Homo sapiens: one gene and its partner. The protein of the gene in region 1 interacts with the protein of each later gene in a pairwise test. Each region holds a gene or a part of one and is shown on either strand. Other genes may lie near its edges.

What was found. Proteins that work in one complex are often made in the same cells at the same time.
Region 2: the proteins of CD164L2 (region 1) and DRAM1 interact in binary tests that used the Homo sapiens proteins (3 or more experiments, as listed by UniProt).

The regions. Positions count from the first base shown.
Region 1 is NC_000001.11:27,379,949-27,388,240, reverse strand, and holds the start of CD164L2 (CD164 sialomucin-like 2 protein isoform 1 precursor), read left to right. Parts: upstream 1-4,907; 5' UTR 4,908-5,001; coding exon 5,002-5,089; intron 5,090-5,573; coding exon 5,574-5,741; intron 5,742-5,841; coding exon 5,842-5,913; intron 5,914-6,416; coding exon 6,417-6,461; intron 6,462-8,045; coding exon 8,046-8,190; coding exon of another isoform or gene 8,191-8,194; exon of another isoform or gene 8,195-8,292.
Region 2 is NC_000012.12:101,894,394-101,901,805, forward strand, and holds part of DRAM1 (DNA damage-regulated autophagy modulator protein 1), read left to right. Parts: intron 1-3,469; coding exon 3,470-3,537; intron 3,538-6,897; coding exon 6,898-7,040; intron 7,041-7,412. UniProt on the Homo sapiens protein: Lysosomal modulator of autophagy that plays a central role in p53/TP53-mediated apoptosis. Not involved in p73/TP73-mediated autophagy.

The DNA of each region.
Region 1 (8,292 bases):
CATTTATTGAGCATCTTCTATTTCCCGGGTACAGAGAATACAGCAGTGAACAAAAATCCCTGCCATCTTCAATGAGCTTCAGTTTTATTAATTAATTTATTTAGTTAGTTATTTTGAGACATAGTCTTGCTCTGTTGCCCAGGCTGGAGTGCAGTGGTGCAATCTCAGCTCACTGCAACCTCCGCCTCCCGGGTTCAAGCGATTCTCCTGCCTCAGCCTCCCGAGTAGCTGGGACTACAGATGCATGCCACCACGCCTGGCTAATTTTTGTATTTTTTAGTAAAGACAGGGTTTCACCATGTTGGCCAGGCTGGTCTCGAACTCCTGGCCTTAGGTGACCTGCCCACCTCGGCCTCCCAAAGTGCTGGGATTACAGGCATGAGCCACTGTGCCAGGCCAAGCTTCAGTTTTAATCTGGAGGGATGGACAATCTACAAATAGATCCTTAAAATCTATTCAAGTAGGGAGCTCTTGGGGGCCTCACAGACCAGTGGGACAAACATGTACACAGATGGTCACAACATGGCATAGTAAGTAAGGTTACTTAATAAACATCTGGCTGGGCATGGTGGCTCACGCCCATAATTCCTGCACTTTGGGAGGCCGAGGTGGGTGGATCACCTGAGGTCAGGCGTTCGAGACCAGCCTGGCCAACGTGATGAAATCCTGTCTCTACCACAAATGCAAAAAATTAGCCAGGCATAGTGGCAGGCACCTGTAATCCCAGCTACTCAGGAGGCTGAGGCAGGAGAATCACTTGAATCTGGGAGGCGGAGGTTGCAGTGAGCCGAGATCACCACTGCACTCCAGTCTGGGCAGCAAGAGCGAAACTCCGTCTCAACAAACAAACAAACAAAAACCCCAACATCTATTCAGCCCTTACTGTGTGCAAGGAGTTCACTAAGGAGGGAAGATCAACATGGTTCCTGCCTTCATGAAGCTTACAGCCTAGGAAACAAATGAGTAATTAATTATACATTAGCTACCTGCTCTGAAGAAAAGAGCAGCTGTTGGGATGTAGGATCACCAGGTGGCCTCTTTTAGGGAGGGAGGTCATGGAACAAGTCACGTGAAGAGAGAACAGGAGTCTTAAGGAGAGGACACGACAAGTGTAAAGTCCCCAAGAAGAGAAAGCATTGATGGGTGTGAGGACCAGAGAGAGGAGGCTAGTGTGTCTGCAGCTAAATCAGCAAAGGGGAGAGGGAGGAGAGGCGAGGTGGGCAGAGGCAAGATCATGTGAGACAGAAGGGAGCTCTTGGGGGCTTACAGACCGGTGGGACAGACAAACATGTACACAGATTGTCACAACATGGTACAGTAAGGTTACTTAATAAACATCTGGCTGGGCACAGCGGCTCATGCCTGTAATTCCTGCACTTTGGGAGGCCAAGACGGGTGGATCACCTGAGGTCAGGAGTTCGAGACCAGCCTGGTCAATATGATGAAACCCCGTCTCTATTAAAAATACAAAAAATTAGCCAGGTGTGGCAGCGGGCGCCTGAAATCCCAGATCAGTGAGACAGACGCCATTGGTGGGAGGGAAGTGTTATGATCTGAACTGACACGTTATCAAAGGGTCACTCTGACTGCTGAGTGCAGAACAGACTGGAATGGGGAGCAGGAGCCCCACTAGAAGGCCACTGCAGTCATTCAGGCAAGAGATGGGGAGGGCTCTGAAGTGGAAAAAGCAGATGGATTTAGATCTCTAGCTAAGTGCTGCAGCAGCTCAGCCTCATTCTGTGACAGTCACAGAAGGCTTCCTGCAGGAGGTGGTCTTGTAGTGGTGTCTTGAAGAATTAGTTTGCCAGGCAAATGAAGTCCAAGGTTGAGGAGGACCCTCTAGGAGAGAGAACAGCTAGGATAGAGGAAGAGAGGTATAGGGGGAAGGCTCTGTTCTATCTTCTTAGAGGGTAGGAAGGTGATGGGAAGCACCCAGGCCAGGATAGAGAGACTTCTAGAGCCAGAAATCAAAGGGTTGTGGAGGTCAAGCCATTGTTGAAAAGTTGTTAGGTGGGGCCAGGCATGGTGGCTCACACCTGTAATCCCAGCACTTTGGGAGGTCAAGGTGGGTGAATCATTTGAGGTCAAAAGTTCGAAACTGGCCGGGCACGGTGGCTCACGCCTGTAATCCCAGCACTTTGGGAGGCCGAGGCAGGCAGATCACCTGAGGTCAGGAGTTCGAGACCAGCCTGACCAACATGGTGAAACCCTGTCTCTACTGAAAATACAAAACTAGCTGGGCGTGGTGGCACATGCCTGTAATCCCAGCTAGTTGGGAGGCTGAGGCAGGAGAATTGCTTCAACACGGGAGGCAGAGGTTGCGGTGAGCTGAGATTGCACCATTGCATTTCAGCCTGGGCAACAAGAGCGAAACTCCCTCTCAAAAAAGAAAAGTTCGAGACCAGCCTGACCAACATGGTGAAACCCTGTCTCAACTTTAAAAATACAGAAAATTGGCCGGGCACGGTGGCTCATGCCTGTAATCCCAGCACTTTGGAAGGCTGAGGCGGGCGGATCACAAGGTCAGGAGATCAAGACCATCCTGGCTAACATGGTGAAACCCTGTCTCTACTAAAAATACAAAAAATTAGCCGGGCATGGTGGCGGGTGCCTGTAATCTCAGAATCTCAGCTACTTGGGAGGCTGAGGCACAAGAATCCCTTGAACCTGGGAGGTGGAGGTTTCAGTGAGCTGAGACTGTGCCACTGCACTCCAGCCTGGGCAGCAGAGTGAGACTCAGGCTCAAAAAAAAAGTTGCTAACTGGAAGAGATATGGTCAAATATATGATTTGTGAGGGCCAGCATAGGAGGGGCCTGGAAGCTGCTGAGATGCAGTGAGGCGTACAGAGGGAATACAAGGGGACAGAACCTGAAGGACTTTTTAAAATTAATTAATTAATTTTATTTTTTATTATTTTTATTTTATTTTTTTATTAGACTTTAAGTTCTAGGGTACATGTACACAACGTGCAGGTTTGATACATAGGTATACATGCGCCATGTTGGTTTGCTGCACCCATCAACTCATCATTTACATTAGGTATTTCTCCTAAAGCTATCCCTCCCCAAGCCCCCCACCCCCCAGCAGGCCCTGGTGTGTGCTGTTCCCCCTCTGTGTCCAAGTGATCTCATTGTTCAATTCCCACTTATGAGTGAGAACATGCAGTGTTTGGTTTTCTGTCCTTGTGATAGTTTGCTGAGAATGATGATTTCCAGCTTCATCCGTGTCCCTGCAAAGGACATGAACTCATCCTTTTTTATGGCTGCATAGTATTCCGTGGTGTATATGTGCCACATTTTCTTTTTTTATATATATAATATATATATTTTATTATACTCTAAGTTCTAGAGTATATGTGCACAATGTGCAGGTTTGTTACATATGTATACATGTGCCATGTTGGTGTGCTGCACCCATTAACTCATCATTTACGTTAGGTATATCTCCTAATGCTATCCCTCCTCCCTCCCCCAGAACCCGAAGGGTCTCTTTTCCCCTGAGTGGGCAGTTTTGGGGGCCTCAGGGACACTCAGGTGGAGATGCCGTGGACCCATGGGAGGCACAGCAGAGGGAGCATGGCCTCCAGCATCATTCAATCCTAGCTTTACATCCTGGCCTGCTGCATTGAAACCCTGTGCCCCTGAGCAGCCTGCAAATGGGAAATGACAAAACTCATGCCTAGAGGGTAGCTGTGGACATTAGATGGGAAGTTGCATGTAAAAGCTCTCAAAATGTACATTCGGCTAGTAAGGGGTCAATAATTGCTAGCTATATATTGTCAGTTACAGGTGTGGCAGTTGTGAAGTCAGAACTGGCCTGGAGATGATTAAGAGATCTGTTGGCTCAAAAAAAATTTTTTTAATGGGTGCATAGTGGGTGTATATATTTATTGGGATACGTGACCTGTTGGCATTCATTCATTCATTCATTTAAAACAGGGTTTCACTCTGTTGCGCAGGCTGGAGTGCAATGCCATGATCACAGCTCACTACAGCCTCAAATCCCTGGGCTCAAGCAATCCTCCTGCCTCAGCTGTTGGGTTTCAAGTGGGGACTGATGGCAGTGGAATGTCCAGGATGACCCCAGGAGAGTGTGGAACAGGGCTTGGGACTAACCTGGGCCACCATCGATTAAGAGAGGGTTAGGAGAAGCAGATGGGGGAAGGAGGGGAGAGGAGGGGAGGAGGAAGAGGAAGGAGAGGAAGTGCCCCCTAAGGAGCCTGAGGAGAACCAAAAGAGGCTGGTGCCAGGGCAGGAGTGGTAGCCGTGGGGAAGGCTGCGGAGAGGCCCAGTTGGCCTAGTAATGGCGTCACCCCTGACCTGGCCAGAGGGTGTGGTAGGCCAGAGGCAGACACAGCGGATGAGGGGCAGAAGGGAGGCGGGTGGAGGGGTGCAGTGAATGGAGAGGGAGCACCGAAGCTAAGCTTGGGCAGCCAGAGGGCAGGGGCCAGCTAGGGCCCGGCCCAGCGGTCATGGGGCCTGGGTGGAGGGTGTACAAAGCGGGGCCTGCACCGAGCCCTGAAGGCAGGGAAGTGACCTCGTCTCGAATCCAGATTTTTGCCACTGCCTCTCTCCGTGACCTCGAACGAGTCACTCATCTTGTCTGAGCCTCAGTTTCCTCACCTGTGAAGTAAGGATCAAAGCAGTCGGTACTTTCCAGAATTTTCAAGAAGCTGCCCTTGGAGGCACATAGTAACCACGCCAGCCACCAGTCCTGGACCCCACCTGCTTTAGTCCAAGCCCCGCCCCAGACCCCCGAACTCACCTGGCCGCGCACACTAGCCACGCCCCTAACTGGCCCCGCCTTCACCTGGCTCCGCCCCGACCGACGAGCCCCGCCCCACCTGCCGCTCCCACTGGCCACGCCCCCACCTGGCCACGCCCCGGTTGCCCAGGTCTCGCTCCGCACACGCTCAGCCGAGCCCAGTCTGGGAGGGACGCGCCCGGCAGCTGTCCACCGATCCCGGCCACCGCCCCCGGCCACCCCCACCCCGCGAGCCCATGGAGGCTCCGGGACCCCGCGCCTTGCGGACTGCGCTCTGTGGCGGCTGTTGCTGCCTCCTCCTATGTGCCCAGCTGGCTGTGGCTGGTAACTCGCGGCAGGGTCTGGCTAGGGGCTCGACGGGGACGGATGGAGCTTGCACCTCAGCCAGCCGTCTCCCCAGGAGCAGCCTGGGCTTGAGGGGAGGGGGCTTTCCGGCCAAGTGCAGGCCTCCAGGGGTGGGAGAGGGGGCTCCAGCTCTGTGTGGAGCCCTGTGTGTAAATATAGGCCCCAGGTGTGGGGGCCTAGGGAGCTTCAGGTGGTCTGGGGGAGGTGGCTCCAACTGAATCTGGGAACCCCGGGTGTATGCAAAGGGAGGGGCTCTGGGTGAATGTGGGGAGGCTCTAGGTGTGTGTAGACCTCTGCTGTGGAAGCTCCAGGTGTGCGCTGGGGCTTGGGGATCCAGGGGTGAGTGTGAGAGCCCAGATGTGTGCAGAGGGGCGAGGGCCACCGGAGTGTTGGGTGGGAGGGTGGGCGGGTGCCACAGCTTGGCTTCGAGGAATTCTCCCTTCCCACTCCACCGCACTACCAGGTAAAGGAGCTCGAGGCTTTGGGAGGGGAGCCCTGATCCGCCTGAATATCTGGCCGGCGGTCCAAGGGGCCTGCAAACAGCTGGAGGTCTGTGAGCACTGCGTGGAGGGAGACGGAGCGCGCAATCTCTCCAGCTGCGTGTGGGAGCAGTGCCGGCCAGAGGAGCCAGGTATGGAGCTGAGCCCTCCCCAGATTGAGTGCCCCCAGCTCTGAACCCCAAGGCCCTGGCCCCTCTCCCCAAACCTCCCCCCTGCACCTTCTCTCACCAGGACACTGTGTGGCCCAATCTGAGGTGGTCAAGGAAGGTTGCTCCATCTACAACCGCTCAGAGGCATGTCCAGGTAAGGGGGTTCTTGCACCTAAGCCAAGTTGCATGGGTCTCCCCAGCCATAGCCTGCCCCCCAGGAGGAAACAGCCTCTCTCAGGCGGTGGATTTTGCTCACCCATACCTGGGCCCGGTATCAGTTCTGCCTTTAGCTCACTGAGAAGTCCCCTCCTCTCTCTGCCTATTTCCTCATCTGAAAATTAGTACAGGTGTGTGGAGGGGATGGGAGTGTTAGCTCTTCTTCTAGTTTAAGGCATAGCAAGGACTTTGGAAGTTCAGAGGGAATGAGAGGGAGTGCTTCCTGGAGGAGGTGGCATCAGTAATGAGCCTGGAAGGTAGAGATGGAGAGAGAGCACATCTGGTGGAGGGAACTGTGTGGGGCTTGCAAGTATGTTGGATGTCTAGAGTAGGGACAGGGCTGCATCTGAATCGGAAGTTTAGCGGTGAGTGGGGGCTGGGGTCTTGATGGGAGTCAGGGGGTGGGAAGGCTGCTTTGCTATGGATCACCTGTCTCCTCAGCTGCTCACCACCACCCCACCTATGAACCGAAGACAGTCACAACAGGTGAGTACTCCCTGGAGACGGGGCAGTGGGAGGAGCAGAGGTGCAGGGGAAGACAGCTCTGGGCTCAGGCACTGACATGCTCTGTGACCTCGGCCCTGCGCCTTCTCCCTCGGAGCCTGTCTCCGCATCTGTGAAATGGGTTGGATGATGCCTTTCTCATAGAGTTGCTCTGCAGGTTTTATGAGAAGCTGTACAGTGCCCACTTCAGTGTCTGACTCACTGAAGGCAATCAAGAAATGACAGTTCCCATCCCTCCTCCCCATTGCCAGTTCTGGGAACTCAAGGTCACCCCTCGGGACTTGTCCTTGGAGGTGAGGGTGTGTGGCTCGAGTTGCTCAGGAGACATCCTCAGTGCCTGCCTACTGCACCCTCCAGGCCCAGAGAGGGTCACAAGGCGGGTTCCTGGCGGAGTAGAGGCAAGAATGCCACCCTTTGCTTCCCACTCCCTCTCAGGGGCTGGAGGTCACCAGACTTGGCAGGGATGGCTGAAGAGGCCCTTGGTTAATTAAAGCCAGAAACCGATCTCAGAAGCTGAATTATTGATGGCTCAGCTCCCTCAGCTGGAGCCCCGGATCAGCCTCATGTGGCTCATTTCTCCCCTCTTCTGCTCCTCATCCCCCAGCTTCCTTCTCTGGGGCTCCCTGAGCGGGAGCTGGGACCACTGTTTGCCCTTCATATTGTCAGACTCCTTCCACCCCTTACACCTTCTGGGAGGGAGACCCAGTTCAGGCTGGGCCCCTTTCCACTGTCCCAGAATGATCTTCCATCCACCAGCCCTGCCCTGTTCTGGGCACCCAGCCCAGGGCCTGAAATCAAATCCCTGCTAGGAGTGGACAGGTACCGTGGCACAGCTGGGAGCCACCCAGGCATAGCCTGGCAACCATGGCCCTAAAGCCCTACCTTCTAAGGGGCAGAGGAGATGGTCAGGGGACCCTGTGTGAGTCTGGCTATGTCCTGTGAGGTGACTTTGGCCAAGCCTGTCCCTCAGCCATGTTCCCCCTGACACACACTGTCCAGTCCTCGCTTACCCACTTAGCAGGGTGACAGTTGGGGCCTCCACTTCTCCCCCTGCTCCTTCCCTCTCTGAGGGCTCTGACATTGGGTGACACTGAGGTCTTAGGGCTTAGGAGTCCTGAAAAGGGACTATATCGTCTGCATCTTGGCTCTGAACCCTGAGGTCCAAGGCTGAAAGGAATTGTGAGCAGGGGAGGGTCTGAGTTCTGGCTCTGTCTTCACCCTATTGGGCTGGTGAGGCCCAGGGAGGGTGGGAGCCCAGTCACTGGTCCAAGCCACCAATTGGACCATGTGATCATGAGGCCCAGAGAGAATGTGGGTGGCATAAAAGCCACAGAGCAAGCCAGGAGCAGAGCCAGGGCTGGACAGCACCCCACCCTCCCCTGCCACTGTTCCTCCCACCAGGCGCTTCCCAACTGCCTGCGGGATCTGGACTAAACGGAGCCCAGGGTTTAAGCACCCCATATTGAGGACCGGGGCCTCCAGGTTACTTGTGCCAGTTATGAGGGTAGGACTGGGATCCTGGTTCACAGTGACTGCTATGACCCCTGCCCTGCCTCACCCCTGCAGGGAGCCCCCCAGTCCCTGAGGCCCACAGCCCTGGATTTGACGGGGCCAGCTTTATCGGAGGTGTCGTGCTGGTGTTGAGCCTACAGGCGGTGGCTTTCTTTGTGCTGCACTTCCTCAAGGCCAAGGACAGCACCTACCAGACGCTGTGAGTACCTGGCCAGCAGCAAGTACCTGAGTCCCAGCTTACCTCCTGGTTCCTGCCCCACCGTTCCCCTTCAGTACCCAGGGTGCTGTCTTCTCCATGGGC
Region 2 (7,412 bases), on another chromosome or scaffold:
GGCATGAGCTACCACACCCGGCCAATTTTTGTATTTTTTGTAGAGACAGGGTTTCACCATGTTGCCCAGACTGGTTTCGAACTCCTGAGCTCAAGTGATCCATCCTCCTCGGCCTCCCAAAATGCTGGGATTACAGGTGTGAGCTACCGTGCCTGGCCTCCACCTGTATGGTTTTAAATGTACAGATAAGCAAGAATAGAACACGACCCTGGAATTCCAAGTTTTCAGATCACGTGTTTGATGTCATGTGGACTCCACACCTGGGCCTTTGACATAGTCTCAATTTGCCATCAATAGACAGAGTCCCCAGGTCTGGTCTTCTCTTCAGTCAGAGCACCTAGAGCACCTTCATATCGCCACCTCCCTATCTTCCTAAATATCCTCCTCATTCTTTCATTGCCTTCCCTTTCTCCACAGACAGGCAAACAACCTTCTTCCCAGCGCTTCTCCTCTGTGTTTGCTCCGATGCCTGGCATGTGGCTGTCTGAGGTTCAGAATTATTCTCAGACCTGTGTAACAAGAACTCTAGGATGAGTCACCTGGTGCCTGCTTTTTTATACCCTCAGGCCAAGGCAGGGAGGCCTGATTTCCCTGGCAGAGTTAATTGTGTGGCAAAAGTGCTGCCCAAGGTTATGAGCTGTCTCTGCTTTTTTCCCCATTACTGGTTCCCATTCCTGTCTCTCTGCCCATTCAGCATTGTGCTCAGAAGGGCATCCTCCACCTCAACATTCCTGTAGTGTGAAAAATGGTTATTGTAGGAAAAGTGGTAATGCTAAATTCGAAACCCTTCAGGTTTTTTTTTTTTTTTTTTTTTTTTTTTTTTACCCAGGCTGGAGTGCAGTGGCGTGATCTCAGCTCACTGCAAACTCTACCTCCTGGGTTCAAGTGATTCTCCTGCCTCAGTCTCCCGAGTAGCTTGGATTACAGGCACGCTGTACCATGCCCAGTTAATTTTTGTATTTTTAGTAGAAACAGGGTTTCACCATGTTGGCCAGGCTGGTCTCGAACTCCTGAGCTCAAGTGATCTTCCCGCCTCGGCCCACAGAAGTCCTGGAATTACAGGCATGAGCCACTATACCCAGCCTAAATCCTAAACCCTTCAGGTTCTTGCAATACCAGTGACATTGAAATTGAATTAATTTGGAATAAAGGCATTTGCTGTAAGGGAGGCTATTTTTTTTTTTTTTTTTTTTTTGAGAAGGAGTCTCACTCTGTCACCCAGACTGGAGTACAGTGGCACGATCTCGGCTCACTGCAACCTCCGCCCTCTGAGTTCAAGCGATTCTCCTGCCTCAGCCTCCGGATTAGCTGGGATTACCGGCGTCTGCCACCGCGCCTGGCTAATTTTTTATATGTTTAGTAGAGACAGGGTTTCACCATGTTGGCCAGGCTGGTCTTGAACTCCTGACCTCGTGATCCACCTGCCTCGGGCTCCCGTAGTGCTGGGATTACAGGTGTGAACCACCGCGCCTGGTCGTAAGGGAGGCTATTAACTTCTTTTTCTTTTTTTTGAGACGGAGTCTTGCTCTGTTGCCCAGGCTGGAGTGCAATGGCGCAATCTTGGCTCACTGCAACCTCTGCCTCCTGGGTTCAAGCGATTCTCCTGCCTCAGCCTCCTGAGTAGCTGGGATTACAGGCACCCACCACCATGCTTAGCTAATTTTTGTATTTTTTAGTAGAGATGGGATTTCATCATGTTGGTCAGGCTGGTCTCGAACTCCTGACCACAGGTGATCCACCTGCCTCGACCTCCGAAAGTGCTGGGATTACAGGCGTGGGCCACTGTGCCCGGCCCTATTAACTTCTTTATACTCCAGTTTAAATACTAAGTGTTCGCAAAACTTAAAAAATTCCTGTTTTCTGCACACACAGGCTCCTTGTGGAATTCTTCAAACACTTACAAGTGCATCATTTTCAACGTGATCGGTTTTTTAATACTTAAATTTCAGAGCTGTTTACAAATGTAGAAACACTCAAAATGAGTTCAAGTTGTTTCATGTTGGGAGCTCTTTTGCCATCAGTTTTAAAGTGAGCAGCCTGAAAATGAAAAAAATTAAAGCTTGGCACTAATAGAAAATAGAACATGTTGGCCAGACATGGTGGCTTACACCTGTAATCCCAGCACTTTCGGAGGTTGAGGCAAGAGGATTGCTTGAGCTCAGGACTTCAAAACCAGCCTGGGTAACATAGCAAAACCCTGTCTCTAAAAAATAAAAAAAAAGAACATGTCAAACAGTATTTTCCAACTCATTTAATTAATTGAAAGACTGTACCTGAAAAATGTTTTACAGAAACCCTTTTTTGTTAAAATAATTTACCACAATTAATATACCCTAGATACCCTATTATTTCCATAAAGTATTCCTAGAGATCAATAATATTGTTCAGTTTTCTTTTTCTTTTTTTTTTTTGAGACAGAGTTTCACTGTTGTTGCTTAGGCTGGAGTGCAATGGTGTGATCTCGGCTCACCGCAACCTCCGCCTCCTGGGTTCAAGTGATTCTCCTGCCTCAGCCTCCTGAGTAGCTGGGGTTACAGGCATGTGCCACCATGGCCGGCTAATTTTGTATTTTTAGTAGAGATGAGGCTTCTCCATGTTGGTCAGGCTGGTCTCGAACTTCTGACCTCAGGTGATCCGCCCGCCTCAGCCTCCCAAAGTGCTGGGATTACAGGCGTGAGCCACCGTGACCGGCCTCAGATTTTTATCATAATATTTTCAGCAGATAATAAAATCTCAATTATTAGAAAATAAAGTGATGTGTTTATGTGTATTTAACATGCCAATATTAGAATTTTCAAACGCGATTTATTTTTATTTTTTTTTTGAGACCGAGTCTTGCTCTGTTGCCCAGGCTCGAATGCAGTGGCATGATCTCGGCTCACCATAACCTCCGCCTCCCTGGTTCAAGAGATTTTCCTGCTTCAGCCTCCCAAGTAGTTGGGACTACAGGCACCTGCCACCATGCTAGGCTAATTTTTGTATTTTTAGTAGAGATGGGGGTTTTACCATGTTGGCCAGGCTGGTCTTGAACTCCTGACCTCAGGTGATCCTCCCACCTCCACCTCCCAAAGTGCTGGGATTACAGGTGTGAGCCGCTGCACCCGGCCTCAAACATGATTTTAGATCTTTTTTTTTTGTTTTTGTTTTTCTTTTTCAAAGTAGTCATTCTTCACTGAGAAGGAACACATACCAAGGTTAGTGGGTTCGATCATTTGAAAAATGGCAGCACCATTCATTTTAAACATTTTCTGGCTTTTTACTATGGAATCTCTCATGGTATAAAAATAAATTTTAGATTTTTCAGAGCCAAAATGAAAATACTTTAGAACAAAATCAGGCCAAATCTTTGGAATTCAAAGTGGCTGAACACCTAAAAGAAACAGAATATAAAACTCGCCAATTACGTGTCTTCCCAGAGGTCTGGACAGAATTTCTTTCTAATAATTTGGACATTTCTTCCCTTTGCCAGTGATACGGGAACAACACCTCCAGAGAGTGGTATTTTTGGATTTATGATAAACTTCTCTGCATTTCTTGGTAAGTACACAATAATTATTATAAATAATTGAAAAGCTCACAATTCCAAGTGAAGTTGATGTGTCATTTGTAGTTTTCATATAATTTTTATTTTATTTTATTTATTTTTTCTGAGACAGGGTCTCTGTCATCCAGGCTGGAGTGCAGTGGCGTGATCACGGCTCACTGCAGCCTCAACCTGCCAGGCTCAAGCAGTCCTCCCACCTCAGCCTCCGGAGTAGCTGGTACTACAGGTGCACACCACCACGCCCAGCTAATTTTTTGTAGTTTTTTGTAGAGATGGGGTTTCACCATGTTGCCAGGCTGGCCTTGAGCTCCCGGGCTTCAGTGATCCACCTGCCTTGGCCTCTCAAAGTGCTGAACTTATAGGTGTGAGCCACTGCACACGGCCTTGTGTATAATTTTTTTAAAAGCACAATCTTTGCAGCTAGATTTTTGTCCTATTTTGAGAAACTGAAGTTAAAAGATATAAAAAATTATGGCTTTATTAGAGAACTATACTTTAATTAGTAATTTGTAACAGGATTTGCTGTAGGTGGTTTTAAATACCAAACTTCTGGAACGGATTTTAAGTGCAATTTAGTTTTTAAAAGTGTTGATTTATGGTCAAGACACTTATGTAAGCCAAAGACACCCAATGCGTAAGCTAAGTTTCTCAAAGTGTATTCTGAAGGCAAGCTGATGAAAAGTCACCTGGAGTTCTCGTAAAATGCAGGTTCCTGGGCCATGCTACTCAACCAGAACCTTTGGGAGTGTGGGTTCCTGAAGATGTGTTGTAAACAAGCACTCTAGGGGACTTGGTTTCTCACTAAAGTTTGAGGACCATTGACAAAGGCATTATCTTACCTGTTAGAGAAAGGGGACAGGTGGAGCAAGGAATAGTATGATTTTTCTTTTCAGTTCCTCAGATGTACCTAAGATGCAGATGATAGGGTGCAACCTTGTCATAAGCCAATTAATGTAATGCATATTAATTACAACTATTGTATAATTAATGTAAAGCTCAGTCTTCTATAAGGTGATTCAAGTATATAGATATCAGATGTGGGGCATTTTCTCTTAGTCCTTCTATAATCTCCCCCCAAACAATCAAGTGTTTGCCAAGGGCCTATCTTGTAACCAACGCTTTCTGTTCCTCTCTACTGGTACAGTGTGAGAAGGGACAGTGATGCTGACCCTACTTAGTGACTTGGCATTTTGGAATTTGTTCATCCTACTTGGTAGCAGGAAAGTTTCACCGCATCACCATTTGTAGTCCTCCTAAAGTTTTGGAGGTGAGCAAGGGGAAGTAGCAATATGGAGTCAGTCAATCCCAGTGCCCTCTTACACCATCCTTGCCAAGAATCCAGACTTGGAAAACAGAGAGATTATTTTATCACAGCAAGTGATAAATACGGCTTTTGCTTCTGAATAAAGCAGAAACTGACAAATATATTCATTTGAAATAGTCTATGTGAGCTCATGCCTGTAATTCTAGCATTTTGGGAGGCTGAAGCAGGAGGATCTGTTGAGCCCAGGAGTTCAAGACCAGCCTGGGCAATGTAGTGAGATCTCATCTCTACAAAAAGTTAAAAAAGAAAGAAAGAAAGAAAAAAGAAGTTAGCTGGGTGTGGTGATGTGTGCCTGTAGTTCCAGCTACTTGGAAGGATAAAGTGGAAGAATTGCCTGAGCCCAGGAGGTCAAGGCTGCAGTGAACCATGACTGTGCCGCTGCACTCCCACCCAGGTGACAGAGCAAGTCCCTGTCTCCACAAAAAAAAAAAAAAAAAAAGATTTATGATAAGTTATTAGTTTTTAGCCTGCTTTTTAAAAATTCAGGAATAGATTATGGCCGTCATACTATGTAAATATATACACATCTACTTTATCCTTTCCACACATGCATGATATCTTTCACAAGGATGTATTATCATTTATTTAATCAGTTCCCTATTGTCCAACATTTAGGCTATTTCTGGTATTTTGTAATTCTAATGTTGAAGTGAACATCTTTTAAATATATCTTTGCATATTTGTGTGAGTTTTTCTATAAGATAAATTTGCTGAGTTAAAGGGAATATGTATCTAAAATTATGGTAGCTATTTATTTATTCAACATTTACTAAGTATGTACTATATGATAGGGTTTGTGCTTGTTTATGACTTAGTGTTGAGTTTACAACAGCCAACAAAACAGACAAGAGCCCTGCTCTCATGGAGGCTACATTTTATTGCCAAATTACAACAAATGGTATTTGGTTAATTGACTAGCTATTTGGAAAAACATACCTTTACTATCCTCCTCACATCATACACAAAAACCAATTGCAATTTAATAGACATGAAAAGCAAAACTATGCAATAATTAAATTACAGGAGAATATTTTTTAAACCTTGGAATAGAAACACAAAACGCAGAAGAATTGATAGATATGAGTAGATTAAAAATTAAAACTTTCAAATGATGTAAGATACAAGATACAATGTTAAAAGACAAATAGCAGAGCAGAAGAAAATTTGTAATATTTATAGCAGATAATAGACTAATGGACATAATGTGTAAAAAGTAACTACAAATTAGATATCGACAAGCCCAAGAGAAGAATAAAAAGAAAATTGTAAACATGCATTTCTCAGAAGAAGAAATGCAAATGACCAGTAGATATACTGAAAGTTGCTAAATCTTGCTAATGATCAGAGAAATGCAAACTAACCCAACAGGTTGAATTTTCATTTATTAGACTGACAGAATTAAAAAGGCAAGGGCATACACAATTGCTCGCAAATTCTGCTGGTGGGAGTCTAAATCGTCAACGGGCTGGAGCAATTTGGAGGTGTTTCTAATTGTGCATGGTTTTTTGACCCAGTAATATTACTTCTAGGAACTGGTCTTTCAGAAACCCAAAGATTTATATACAAGGATATTCATGGCGTGTTGTTTGTAGCAGGAAAAACATGGAAACAATGTAGAAATTCATTCTTAGGAGAATGAGGAATAAATATAGTATCTCATACCACAGACCATGATAAGATCCCTGAAAACAATGAAGTAGATCTGTTTGTACTTGCTTGAAAAGATCTCCATGGTACACTGTTAAATGGAAAAAGCAAGTCACAGAGTAATACATGTACTATAATAGCATTTACATGAAAAGGACAACAGCCAAGGGGTGTGTGTGTGTGTGTGTGTGTGTGTGTGTGTGTGTGTGTGTGTGTCTGTACATGCTGGGGAGAGAGTAAGATGGAGTCAGGAGGGACAGGGGTGGGAAAGTGGGGAGACTTGCAATCAGTACATTTTTAAAAAGTGATACAAAGCTGCTCCTGTTTTTCATCCTAAAGACATCAAATTATGAACATTCATCAAAGTTCTCTTCTTTTTCAGGTGCAGCCACGATGTATACAAGATACAAAATAGTACAGAAGCAAAATCAAACCTGCTATTTCAGCACTCCTGTTTTTAACTTGGTGTCTTTAGTGCTTGGATTGGTGGGATGTTTCGGAATGGGCATTGTCGCCAATTTTCAGGTATAATCTGGAGCTTTTTCAGTTATGAGGAGTGGTGGAGTGTATGTGTCTGAAGAGAGCAGCAGAAATGCAAGAGGCACACTTATGCCATTATAGCCATTAAATGCTTGATGAGTTTACAATAAGTGGGTTAGTTTGCTTTTTAGAAACCTTTAACATTTGGAAATCAGGGCCAGGTGTGGTGGCTCACACCTGTAATCCCAGCACTTTGGGAAACTGAGGTGGATCATGAGACCAGGAGTTCAAGACCAGTCTGGCCAACATGGTGAAGCCTCATTTCTACTAAAAATACAAAATTAGCCAGGTGTGGCGTCACATGCCTGTAATCCCAGCTACTCAGGAAGCTGAGGCAGGAGAATTGTTTGAACCTGG